2 separate regions of the Homo sapiens genome follow, and region 2 is linked to region 1. Evidence: fine-mapped expression QTL. A gene starts in region 1. The other region holds a variant in brackets. All regions are shown on one strand. Distances are between the middles of the regions. Region 1 holds the start of FOXL2 (forkhead box L2). Region 2 has its middle 26 kb from the start of BPESC1.

Region 1 (5,364 bases):
CCGGTGGCTGCTGAATTGCAGCTGCGGGACCCTGGAAAACTGGGGCAAAGAGGCAGTGAGTTCTGCCCAGCCCACCACCCTGGCCTTTGGAGGTGAGCGCCGCCCCAAGGTCACTAAGCCGGGGGCCCTGCGTCGCCCCAATGCCGCGGGGAGAAAAGGAACCGGCCCTGGCGTCCACAAAACCTAGGCACAGTATGCCCTGTTCAGAGAGGATCCCGACCTCGCCAGCAACCAGCCTACCTCCGAAGGTTGAGAAGTAAATCAGGGCGCCCCGCACCGTTTCCTGGAGCGCCCGGTTCACCCACCTCTGGCTGGGCCGGCAAGGAGAGGATTCTGTTCTCTCCCTAGATTCCTCTATCTCCAGCCCGAAGCCCCTGGCTTTTCCGCAGAAGCCTGGAGGGGACCTGAAAGTAATCATTCTGCCAGCTTTCCCGCCCGCATTTTCTTGCCTGTTTTCTGAGCCTTCGAATGCCGGACAGCCATGTGAAGGCACATCTTGGGGAGACCGATTCCAGCCCTTCCCAGGGTGCACGCATCAGGCATCCTCTTCTTCACCAGGGCTGGGGATTCTGTTCCTCTACGGGACAGTCAGAAATCAGTATTTTCAGAGCAGAACTCCTTTCTATTCTGAAAATCCTTCAGAGGAACTCCTTCATTTGCCCCCAACCCCTACACACACACACACACACACACACACGCACATGCATACACACACAGGCTCTTTAAAGGCTGAAAAGGGAGCCGAGTGTGGAATTCAGGGAAGTGATGACACACACAACAATGCTGTTACACCTGGCTGCTGCAGGGCTGAGCAGCGGAAATGCCTGTGAGAAGAAGAAAGAAAGACAGAGAGACGCAGAGAGCCAGCCTGGGTGGTCAAGAAAAAAAAAAAGGAGAGAAAAGGAGAGAGGAGCCCCCACCAGGATGGGGCCAGACCCAGCTGTTTTTCCCCCTGCCCAGGCCCTGGCTGGGGGAGGATAGGCACTGAGGCCAATCTGCAGCAGCCCCAAACCGGACTCACCACTCCCACCCAAAGCTTGGGCAAGGATGGGGGTAAGGAAGAAGAAAAACATCTGCACTCCTGCTCAGAAAGCAGCAGCAGGGATTCTGCGGAAGTGCTGCTTCCCCCATGTCTGTTGGGTGCAGTGGGAGACCGCCCATAAAAAAAACCAAGCTACTTTGGGGATAGCCTTGCTCCCTCTCATCCTTGTGACCAGGCAAGGGCTGCCCTGCTGACCTCTCTGGTGTCATCTTCAAGATGCTGAATTCCAAAGAGCCCTACCACCCTTGTCCTCCCTCCCTTTCATCTCAGAATGCAGATCAGAGGCCTGAGTGAGCAGCAGACAACACTTGTAGATGGCCTGTGGATGCTGGAACCACAGGCCGCTGAAGGCTCCTTGGGCTTCAGGAGAACCCTCAGAGTCTAAACAGCCTGGGAGGAAGAGGCAGTGACAGGCATTGAGTCAGCCACTCCAGACATGCCAATCACTAATGCACAGCTATATGACATCCATTCAGTCCACCTTCCTCCATAAGGTGGCCTTGCCCCCCTCCTCAGCACCAAGGAGTTTGGGGCTTGAGGATTCAAAACACTGGCCATCTCTCTCATACTTTATGACTGCAGACTTTTTGTTTAGGCCAAGTTAAAAGGCACTGTTAAGGAGCACACTGTTAAAAGGCACACCTGATTTTCCCTGAAACAATCTCTGTACATGCTGAAATAATTGGATTCCCATCAGAATTCTGCTTAAGGTAGGTGACAACTAACTCCTGATTCTTTGGAGAAAGATCAGAACAAATGTCTCATCAGGAGAGAGATTTGAACAAGTCCCTCCCTCAGCCTGATGTTTGTCTTCCCAGTCTGTGGCAAAATACATACACTGGGAGGGAAAGAGGCATCGAAGAATTGTGAAAGAAAGGAAGAAAGGGGGGAAGGAAAGAAGTAAGAAAGGAGAAAAAGAGAAGATGCTATATCCACCAGCTACATTTACTCTAATACTTGATGAACATATTACATAACTATCAGTATAAGTGTGTTTTACCTCGTAAATACAAATCTCACACCTTGTACATGTGCATACCTGTGTTTCTGAGCAGCACACATGCACCTGGTATCTCACCCATCTCAAGGACAGCTCCTCTCCATGACTTCCATATGTGACCCCTGTGCACACACATACACAGTCCCGCAAAGTCCCGGGCAACAGCCCCGCCTGTGTTAGTGCAATAGCTGAGGGGCATCTACTTGGTGCTGTTAAAGCACACATCCAACCTTCACTCCAACCCCGTAGGATTAGTACACGGATTCCTGGTTCCTAGATCCACTGGTAACGCAGGGAGAGGCAGAGGTGATTCAGGCGGCGCCCCTGACGACTATTTCCAGAGATCCTCTCCCCTGCCCCATTCCAGCCCAGTCACTCTGAGAGCGCGAGGGACAGGCCAGGCCGAGGCTTCTTCGTACAGTCACACCCGTTTCTGGGCTGACTTTCCCAAAGCCTCAGAGCAGCTCTCCCCACCCTACCCCGTCCAGCCCCCTCGCCGTCTCGCCCCTCCCCAGCCCCGAGCTAGAAGTTCAGCCTCAAGACGGCAGCAAACGGCAGAGCAAAGGAGTCGTTTTCTTTCACCTGAAAGCCGCGAGGAGGCTTGGAGCGCCTTTCCTCGCTGGGGCCCGAGCTTCCTGGGCTTTGGCCGGGTGCGGGCAGACCCCACCGGGGTCCTCGTCATCTCCCAGCCCAGCCCGCAGAGCGAGTACCGGCAGATTTCAAGGGCGCGTGAGCCTGGCTGTCGGCTGGGCCCCTGAGGCTCGCTGGGCGGGGGCAGGCCGGTCCAGGCTGTGCGGGGCGTTTACAAAAAGTGACTTGGAGATGAACTCGCCCGTGCGCGGCTGGCCGCCCCGCTATAGGGGCGAAGGCGCCTGACGCAAGCGGAACTCGGTGGAGCCCATACGAATCAGAACAGAGCGAGGCTCCTGGCGCACTAGGGACTCCAGGAGGCAGCTCCGCCAGAGACGCGGGTCGTGCTTCGGGAAACCGGGGGGCGGGGGGAGGGGAAGAGCGCAGAAAAGAAAACCCACCAAGGCGGGGACTGGCCTGAGCGGGGAGGGGCGGCGAGGCCGGAGCCCCTCTCTGTTGGGCGGACTCCCCATGGCCAGAGGCTGAGCTCCACTCCCGCCGGCCGCTCCCTAGGGGAAGGGGAAGGAGAGGGGAGAGCAGCGACAGGCCTCCAGCAAGCAAGCGCGGGCGGCATCCGCAGTCTCCAGAAGTTTGAGACTTGGCCGTAAGCGGACTCGTGCGCCCCAACTCTTTGCCGCGCCAGCGCCTGGAGCGGAGAGCAGAGGCGGCCCGGCCGCGGCGCGCCGGCTTTGTCATGATGGCCAGCTACCCCGAGCCCGAGGACGCGGCGGGGGCCCTGCTGGCCCCAGAGACCGGTCGCACAGTCAAGGAGCCAGAAGGGCCGCCGCCGAGCCCAGGCAAGGGCGGTGGGGGTGGCGGCGGGACAGCCCCGGAGAAGCCGGACCCGGCGCAGAAGCCCCCGTACTCGTACGTGGCGCTCATCGCCATGGCGATCCGCGAGAGCGCGGAGAAGAGGCTCACGCTGTCCGGCATCTACCAGTACATCATCGCGAAGTTCCCGTTCTACGAGAAGAATAAGAAGGGCTGGCAAAATAGCATCCGCCACAACCTCAGCCTCAACGAGTGCTTCATCAAGGTGCCGCGCGAGGGCGGCGGCGAGCGCAAGGGCAACTACTGGACGCTGGACCCGGCCTGCGAAGACATGTTCGAGAAGGGCAACTACCGGCGCCGCCGCCGCATGAAGAGGCCCTTCCGGCCGCCGCCCGCGCACTTCCAGCCCGGCAAGGGGCTCTTCGGGGCCGGAGGCGCCGCAGGCGGGTGCGGCGTGGCGGGCGCCGGGGCCGACGGCTACGGCTACCTGGCGCCCCCCAAGTACCTGCAGTCTGGCTTCCTCAACAACTCGTGGCCGCTACCGCAGCCTCCCTCACCCATGCCCTATGCCTCCTGCCAGATGGCGGCAGCCGCAGCGGCTGCAGCAGCTGCGGCTGCAGCCGCGGGCCCCGGTAGCCCTGGCGCGGCCGCTGTGGTCAAGGGGCTGGCGGGCCCGGCCGCCTCGTACGGGCCGTACACACGCGTGCAGAGCATGGCGCTGCCCCCCGGCGTAGTGAACTCGTACAATGGCCTGGGAGGCCCGCCGGCCGCACCCCCGCCTCCGCCGCACCCCCACCCGCATCCGCACGCACACCATCTGCACGCGGCCGCCGCACCGCCGCCTGCCCCACCGCACCACGGGGCCGCCGCGCCGCCGCCGGGCCAGCTCAGCCCTGCCAGCCCAGCCACCGCCGCGCCCCCGGCGCCCGCGCCCACCAGTGCGCCGGGCCTGCAGTTCGCTTGTGCCCGGCAGCCCGAGCTCGCCATGATGCATTGCTCTTACTGGGACCACGACAGCAAGACCGGCGCGCTGCATTCGCGCCTCGATCTCTGAGAGCCCACCGCATGCCGGTGCAGACGGATGCGAGGATGCAGGGACGCGCGACGCCGGCCCCGGTCGCAGCCGACGACGCCGCCGCCAGCCTGACCTCACACCCTCTGGGCCCGCCTCTGGAGCCAGCGCCCAGGGTCCCTCTGTGCTTTTTCGCTTTCCTAAGCTCCTGTCGCTCCTCTTTGTCCCCTCAGTTTATGTCCTCCTGTGCTCACCTCCCTGACCTCTGTGACCTTGCACTCCCCTGGCCTGAAGCTGCCTCTCTGCGCGCTTTCTACTGGGCTCGTCTCTTTCCGGAGCCCCAGCGTCTCCTGCCCAAATTCACCGCGGAAAGGGCCCGGGGCGGAGGTGCGACCGGGCGTCGGCAGCGCAGACCTCTTGGCCTTCTCTCACAGGTCGGTGCGCTCGCTCTCCGCGTTCCCCGCCCGACTGCCGTGCAGTCCATGGCTAGACGCGCCGGACAGGACTGATGGCGGGACCGCGCTGCCCGAGAAAGGGACGGACCAATACGTGTGTTTGCTCCGCGAACCCTCTTGAAGCTGTTCAGAAGCCGCTTGCCGCGGGGCCCACTAGGCGGGGCGGGGGTTGGGACCCAGCGGGAGCCGGGGCAGCCTGGCTCCACGGCCTGTACTCGGTTTACACCGCGGGCGGGCGCGGAGGGAGGCTGCGTTTCCTCCGCTATCAGTCCCGTCGCTTCGGGCACCTCCGGGCCCCGGCGGCTGGCTAATGTTTTGTTTGAAAGATCGGTGGAACTTTTTAAGAGAGTATTTAAAAAAAAAAAAAGGAAAAAAAATTCACCGGGCAACCGGGGAAGTATTGTGGCCTTGGAGTTTGCTAAATCCAAATATGAAAATCAAAAGCTTTAGTATT
Region 2 (5,364 bases), 180 kb before region 1:
CCTCTGAGATTCTACCCTTGTTATTGGTCTGGTTGGAGGAGAAGAAGTGTGGATGAATCCCAAGAGGATTAAGCATTGTTTTATGCAGCATCTGCCTCATTTAACTGGAGGCTTCTACATAAGCCTCAAACAAGGTGTGGGAGGGGAGGGAGGATAACTGCCTTCTAATAACAGAGAGAGGGCACTTCTGCCTAGCAGCTTCAGGAGAATCTGGAAGTTCAAGGTTCTCAATTGTATCTACCCAGATTTCCCCATCTCAAGAACCTGAGGCTTGGTGTGCAAAGCTCACTGGGATTGAGAATTTGACTTCTGTAGTTCTGCTACTCTTATAATTAAGCCTAGTCTTCTGCTTTGTCTGCCCTCTGGCTGCATAAGATTAGTGTTTGCTTAAATGATGCTAACAAGGCTCTCTTGCTTTTCCATTTTGCCTTAAATTTGTAATTAGTTACCCAAAGCCTGCCATTATCTCTCTTCAACAAATGAACGGCACTCAACAACAACCACACAATTCTATAGTCCCCATAGTTATCATTTCCCTCATTCCTCTTAAGTGCCAGAAATAATACATCAACCCAAATTGCCTGCCAACAACATTCTACCCCAGCTCACCAATGTGCAAGTTTTAGCAACTGCACCTCTACAGCACACCAGGGGCCATCTGTGGGCCCACCTGTGATGGGGTCCTCATTGCCAGCCAGCTGACAAGGGACCATATTTTAGAGTCTAAGTCACAGGACCACTCTGGGAGCCAATGGTTTTAGATTGGATTTCCTAAAAAGACTTTGAGACAGAGCTGTATGCAGAAGTTCTCTTGGGGGTGTTCTTAAGAGAGATGTCAGGAAGGATGTAAGGAAGGAAGGCAGAATAAGGCAGAGAAAGAAACTGACCACAGTGCAATTTGCAACCAAGGCCTCAGCTGATCCTATCAGCTGGGCCTTGGTATTTCCATACCAGCTAGTCACTGGCCCATGGGCCACCCTGGGAGGGGACATACCCTTAGATAAGACAGTTTTCTACAGTAGAGGGCAAGGCTCAGTGAGGGATGCAGCTGTGAGCCATGAGCAGCAATATCTCCAGCAGCTGGGGGATGACGTGTCAGCCCTGAAGAGATCTGGGTGGAGCACAATGGCACCCCACAATAATGTCAGTAGGAGTCTGTGATGGCAGGGGTTAATGTGGCTCCAGGGCTCATCCCAGTTTTCAGCCTCCCTCACCCAACTCCCTAAAGGCCCTGCTGTCTGTGGATTCCTGGCCCCTGGGGCCTTGGCCTACAAACCACAGGGTAATTGCACATTTGGTTTTAGGGATTGGTGGGATTTCAGGAACTTATCCCTAAGCAACTGCCATCCAGATGGAGATACTAGGGCCACTGGTCTCTGAGTGAAATCACAGTATAGGTAGGGCGAGAGACAGCACTGGGAGTTTCTGTCCCCACACGTATGGGTAAACAGAAGCTCCTGCCACTAACAGCTCCCTGCAGCGTTTTCACTAGGGAACGGGAAGATCCAGGCTAAAGGCCCCTCTTCCGGGTGTCCTCCCAATGCCTATGACTCTAACACTGTTTGGGTGCTCCCTTCACTATCTCCTACAATGTGACAGGACCTACCCTTCATACAGCACATGAAGTTCTGCTGTTCCCCAGACAATGAGCTTCTACCTTGCACCGAGCCCTAAGCCAAGCACCCCACACATATGATATCATTTAACCCTTGTAACAATCCCTTGAGAGCATTATTATTGTTCCCATTTAGAGATAAAGAAACCGAGGCTCCAAAAAGTGAAATGACTTTCCAGCTAAATTTTCTCCCCCGACTCCCCCATAACCTGCACTGCACTCTGAAAACCTACCTGGTCAGAGTGTGAGCTCCCAGGGCTGAGGCCCTGTCCCTTCACTCTCTTGGTCTTGTGTGGCCACCTATCTGGCTCAGGCATAGCTCAGCGAAGCCCTGGAGGATGGTTTAGGAGCATCCCGATGATTGTGAGGGCAAGACCGCTCTTTTAGGATGACCAATCATCCCAGCCTGCCCAGGAATGATTGAGTTTTTCTGGGACTCTGGACTTTCACCCTACTCTTTTCCCACTCTTGTCCCCATTCTCAAAAGAAAGAAGGCAGTTGGTCTGTGATTATGGATGTGGTTGGCCTCAATGAGGGGACCACTGTCCTCAAACCCAGGCACTGCTCTCCCACCAACAACCTCCCTCTCCAGCAGCCTGACCAACTCTTGCTCTACCTTTCAGTTTCAACACATGTCATCACCCCAGAGGCTGTGTCATCTTCCCCAAAAAGAACCTTGTGCTTCTGTCTACTCCTATACCAAGCATGCACCCACCTCCACCTCCAAACCAGACCATGAGCTCCAATAGGCAGCGCCAAGGACATTGCTGGCCTGGCAGAGAGAAGAGGCTCCAAGACATTTGCTGAGTAGATGAATAAGTGGATGGGCAAATGGTGTTTAATTGCACCTTAATTGTTGTCTGTTCCTTACCTATTTATCCATGTAGTATTTTTTGATGCCCCTCCCCCTAGCCAGACTACCAGCTCAACTGAAAACTGAGGCTGGATCTTTCTTTGGGTCTTCCCCACAGTGCTGAGCACATGCACACAGCAGGGCACACTGTAGGTGCTCAGGAAAGGCTTTGAATGGATGCTTAAGGACACTTGCTGCCTGCAGTAAACTTTCTCAGGCTCCCTAGAGCATAGCAGATACGACTGCAGCTTTTTAAAATACTTCACACCCTGATCTGCATCAGTGGCTGCCTTTGAGCCCAGCACCCAGCGTGGCTGCTTCTCTGCAGGTCAAGGCTGTGCCTGATTGAAGAGGTAGGGGGTCAAGTACACTGGGCAGAGCTGGAGGAGTTCCTGTACTGTTTCCTCTGATCAGGAGTGGAACTTGTGTTGGGAGATGCCAGCACCTGCCATTTCAGCTGGCTGCACCTCTTAAATGATAGTGGTCTTGGCATACCTGTTCATCTGTTCGTCTATCTGTCTTGGGGCATCTCCAGCTTTTTCACCCACTCCCTTCCCCACACATCTCATTGGCCCTCTGTAGGCACCAGGTCCCATCCATATTCACAAAGATGAAGCCAGCAGAGCAGCTGTTCTGTTCCCTGGGGCCTGATGTTCTAAAGGGGAATAATGACTACTCATGAGTGTGCTTAACTGAGTTGA[C/T]AGATGCTCATAGCAGACTGGACTTACTGTTCCTTGCAGTCTTCACTGACTTCAGTGTATACGGAGAAGACCAAATTCCACCCCTAGGCAATACTCTGGTTTCAGACTGAAATTTGAAGACAGAGTTAAGAACCTAGTTCAAGGGGGGCCACTGGAAGCACCAAAAGTTGTAGCAACCGTTGAGTCTACCTGTTCAGATGGTTTGTTTTGCAGGAACCACACATACACACACACACACACACACACACACACACACACACACACACACACTGCCTTCAAACTCCTCTGACTTGTCTTCATCACCTAACCAGTTTTCAACATACCCCACCCGTGTCTACCTGCTCAGCTCAAGTCAGGGGTGTAGCTCAGCACATTCATGGGTGATCGTACCTCACCATCATTCCCAGTAGTAAGCCCCTGTCTCCTTAAATTGCTTACCTGCTTATCTGGATTAAATCGAGCACCTGAAATGGGCCAGACACCATGCCCATTTAATTTAGTGCTCAAAGTTTATATATTAAATAATTTAGTGTTCAAAAAGAGTACTCTGTGTATTAGCTCCATTTAACAGATAAGAAAATCGAGTCTCAGAGAGGTTAAGTGACTTACTTAAAGGTACACAGTGGTGAAACCAGAATTTAAAACTAGGTCCTCTGATTCCAACCACTGCTCTTTCCACTACACTGCCCTAATTACATTTAAACATCACACATAACTGACCACCACTGCCTCTTTGTGCACCAAGACCTCCTCCCACACACCTCTCACTTTGCTCTGTTACCCAAAGTCAGGTGGCAACTCTAACTCTGAGTCTTCTTCATGCCAGTCATTGAGTCCTTTCCAGACACCTCTCCAGTTCCTCTCCCATCCTTCTCATTCCATTCCTACTGCCTCTGCATGGGAGAGTCCTCACCAGCTCTCCTTGTGTAACCATCACAACCTGCCCTCCCCACCCTTCCAATGTCATCACCCCATTCATTCCCTCCCCACAAAACCTCAGACTTTCTGCCTCTCTGTACTAGTCCTGCCCCTCCTAAGTAAGCCTTGCTGTCTCACAACTCTGCAGATGACAACAATGCTGCCCACACACTCTGCCTGTGAATTCCTAGTCATCCTTCAAAATTCAGTTCAAATGTTACCTCTGCTGAGAAGCGCCCGCCCCAGCTCTCCCAGGCAGAGATGGGTGCCCATCCTTTGACCTTTTTCAGTATCCTTATACTTAGCCCTCCCTGTCTCATGTCCTTTGCCACACACTAATGCAATCATTTAGTGTATGTGTATGTGTCTTCCCTATTACTCTCTGACTATCTCTTATCTGTCTTTGGCATTTTGTTTTGTGTGTGTGCATGCAGGCATGCATGTTTGACCTTGGGTGCAGACAGTTGTGTTAAACGTGCTTCTTGGTTTCATGGAACTCCATCATCACTGGCCCATGAAGGCCTCTCTTTTATCCCTATTCCCACCCTCCTTCCCCTCCTCCTCCTATTTGTCTCTGTGTGCCCAGGGCCTAACACAGCACACAGAAGGGTGCTCAGCAAATGCTGCTGGGTGCAGGAGATGGATGACAAATTAGTCATACACCCCATTTAATCCCATCCCTTGGAGATTTCATCAGTCAGCCAAAGTGGAGAATGGTATGGTTTAACTGGCACAGCCAAGGAAATGAGAGTTATTGAACAAGATCAAGTCTTTGTTGTTTGAAGTCCTGGCTGTTGCAGAAGAAATAAAAAAGGTCAAGAGTTTGAGACCACCCTGGCCAACATGGTGAAACCCCGTCTCTAGTAAAAATACAAAAATTAGCCGGGCATGGTGGCATGCATCTTATAATCCCAGCTATTAGGGAGGCTGAGGCAGGAGAATCACTTGACCCTGGGAGGGAGAGGTTACAGTGAGCCAGGATTGCACCACTGCACTCCAGCTTGGGTGACAGAGTGAGACTCCATTTTTTAAAAAAAATGTACACATCAGAGGCCAGTTTATCATTTGGGGACTGCAACGTAAAATTTTTGATGCAAAATTATTTCAATCCAACAAGCCCAAGATAGAACTCTCAGCTCTTCATCCAAAAGGGCACTGGCCTCCCCAGGAGTCACCTGAGAGGTCATTCCCTTCCTTCTAAAGATGCTGCTATTGTCCATAGATCTTGCTATTGATCTATAGACGCTCGTTATCGTCCGTGATCTTGGCTCATTGCG

Evidence for each region. PIP is the estimated chance that this variant, and not a neighbour inherited with it, causes the effect. A credible set is the group of variants that fine-mapping cannot tell apart.
Region 2: its variant is the best candidate, but not a certain one, in a credible set for the expression of FOXL2 in pituitary (GTEx, PIP 0.69).

Annotation. Positions count from the first base shown.
Region 1 is chr3:138,944,725-138,950,088 of GRCh38, reverse strand. FOXL2 (forkhead box L2) reads left to right here and starts at 2,952. Exons shown (of 1, transcript NM_023067.4): 1 at 2,952-5,364. The coding sequence starts at 3,367. The coding sequence ends at 4,497. FOXL2NB (FOXL2 neighbor) reads right to left here and starts at 2,872. Exons shown (of 3, transcript NM_001040061.3): 1 at 2,625-2,872; 2 at 450-569. The coding sequence starts at 2,724. RefSeq lists a silencer at 2,708-2,936 and an enhancer at 4,977-5,364.
Region 2 is chr3:139,127,863-139,133,226 of GRCh38, reverse strand. No RefSeq gene overlaps it. Among named protein-coding and RNA genes, the nearest start is that of BPESC1, 26 kb to the right of the region's middle. The variant C/T (reference allele first, on the strand shown) is at 3,170.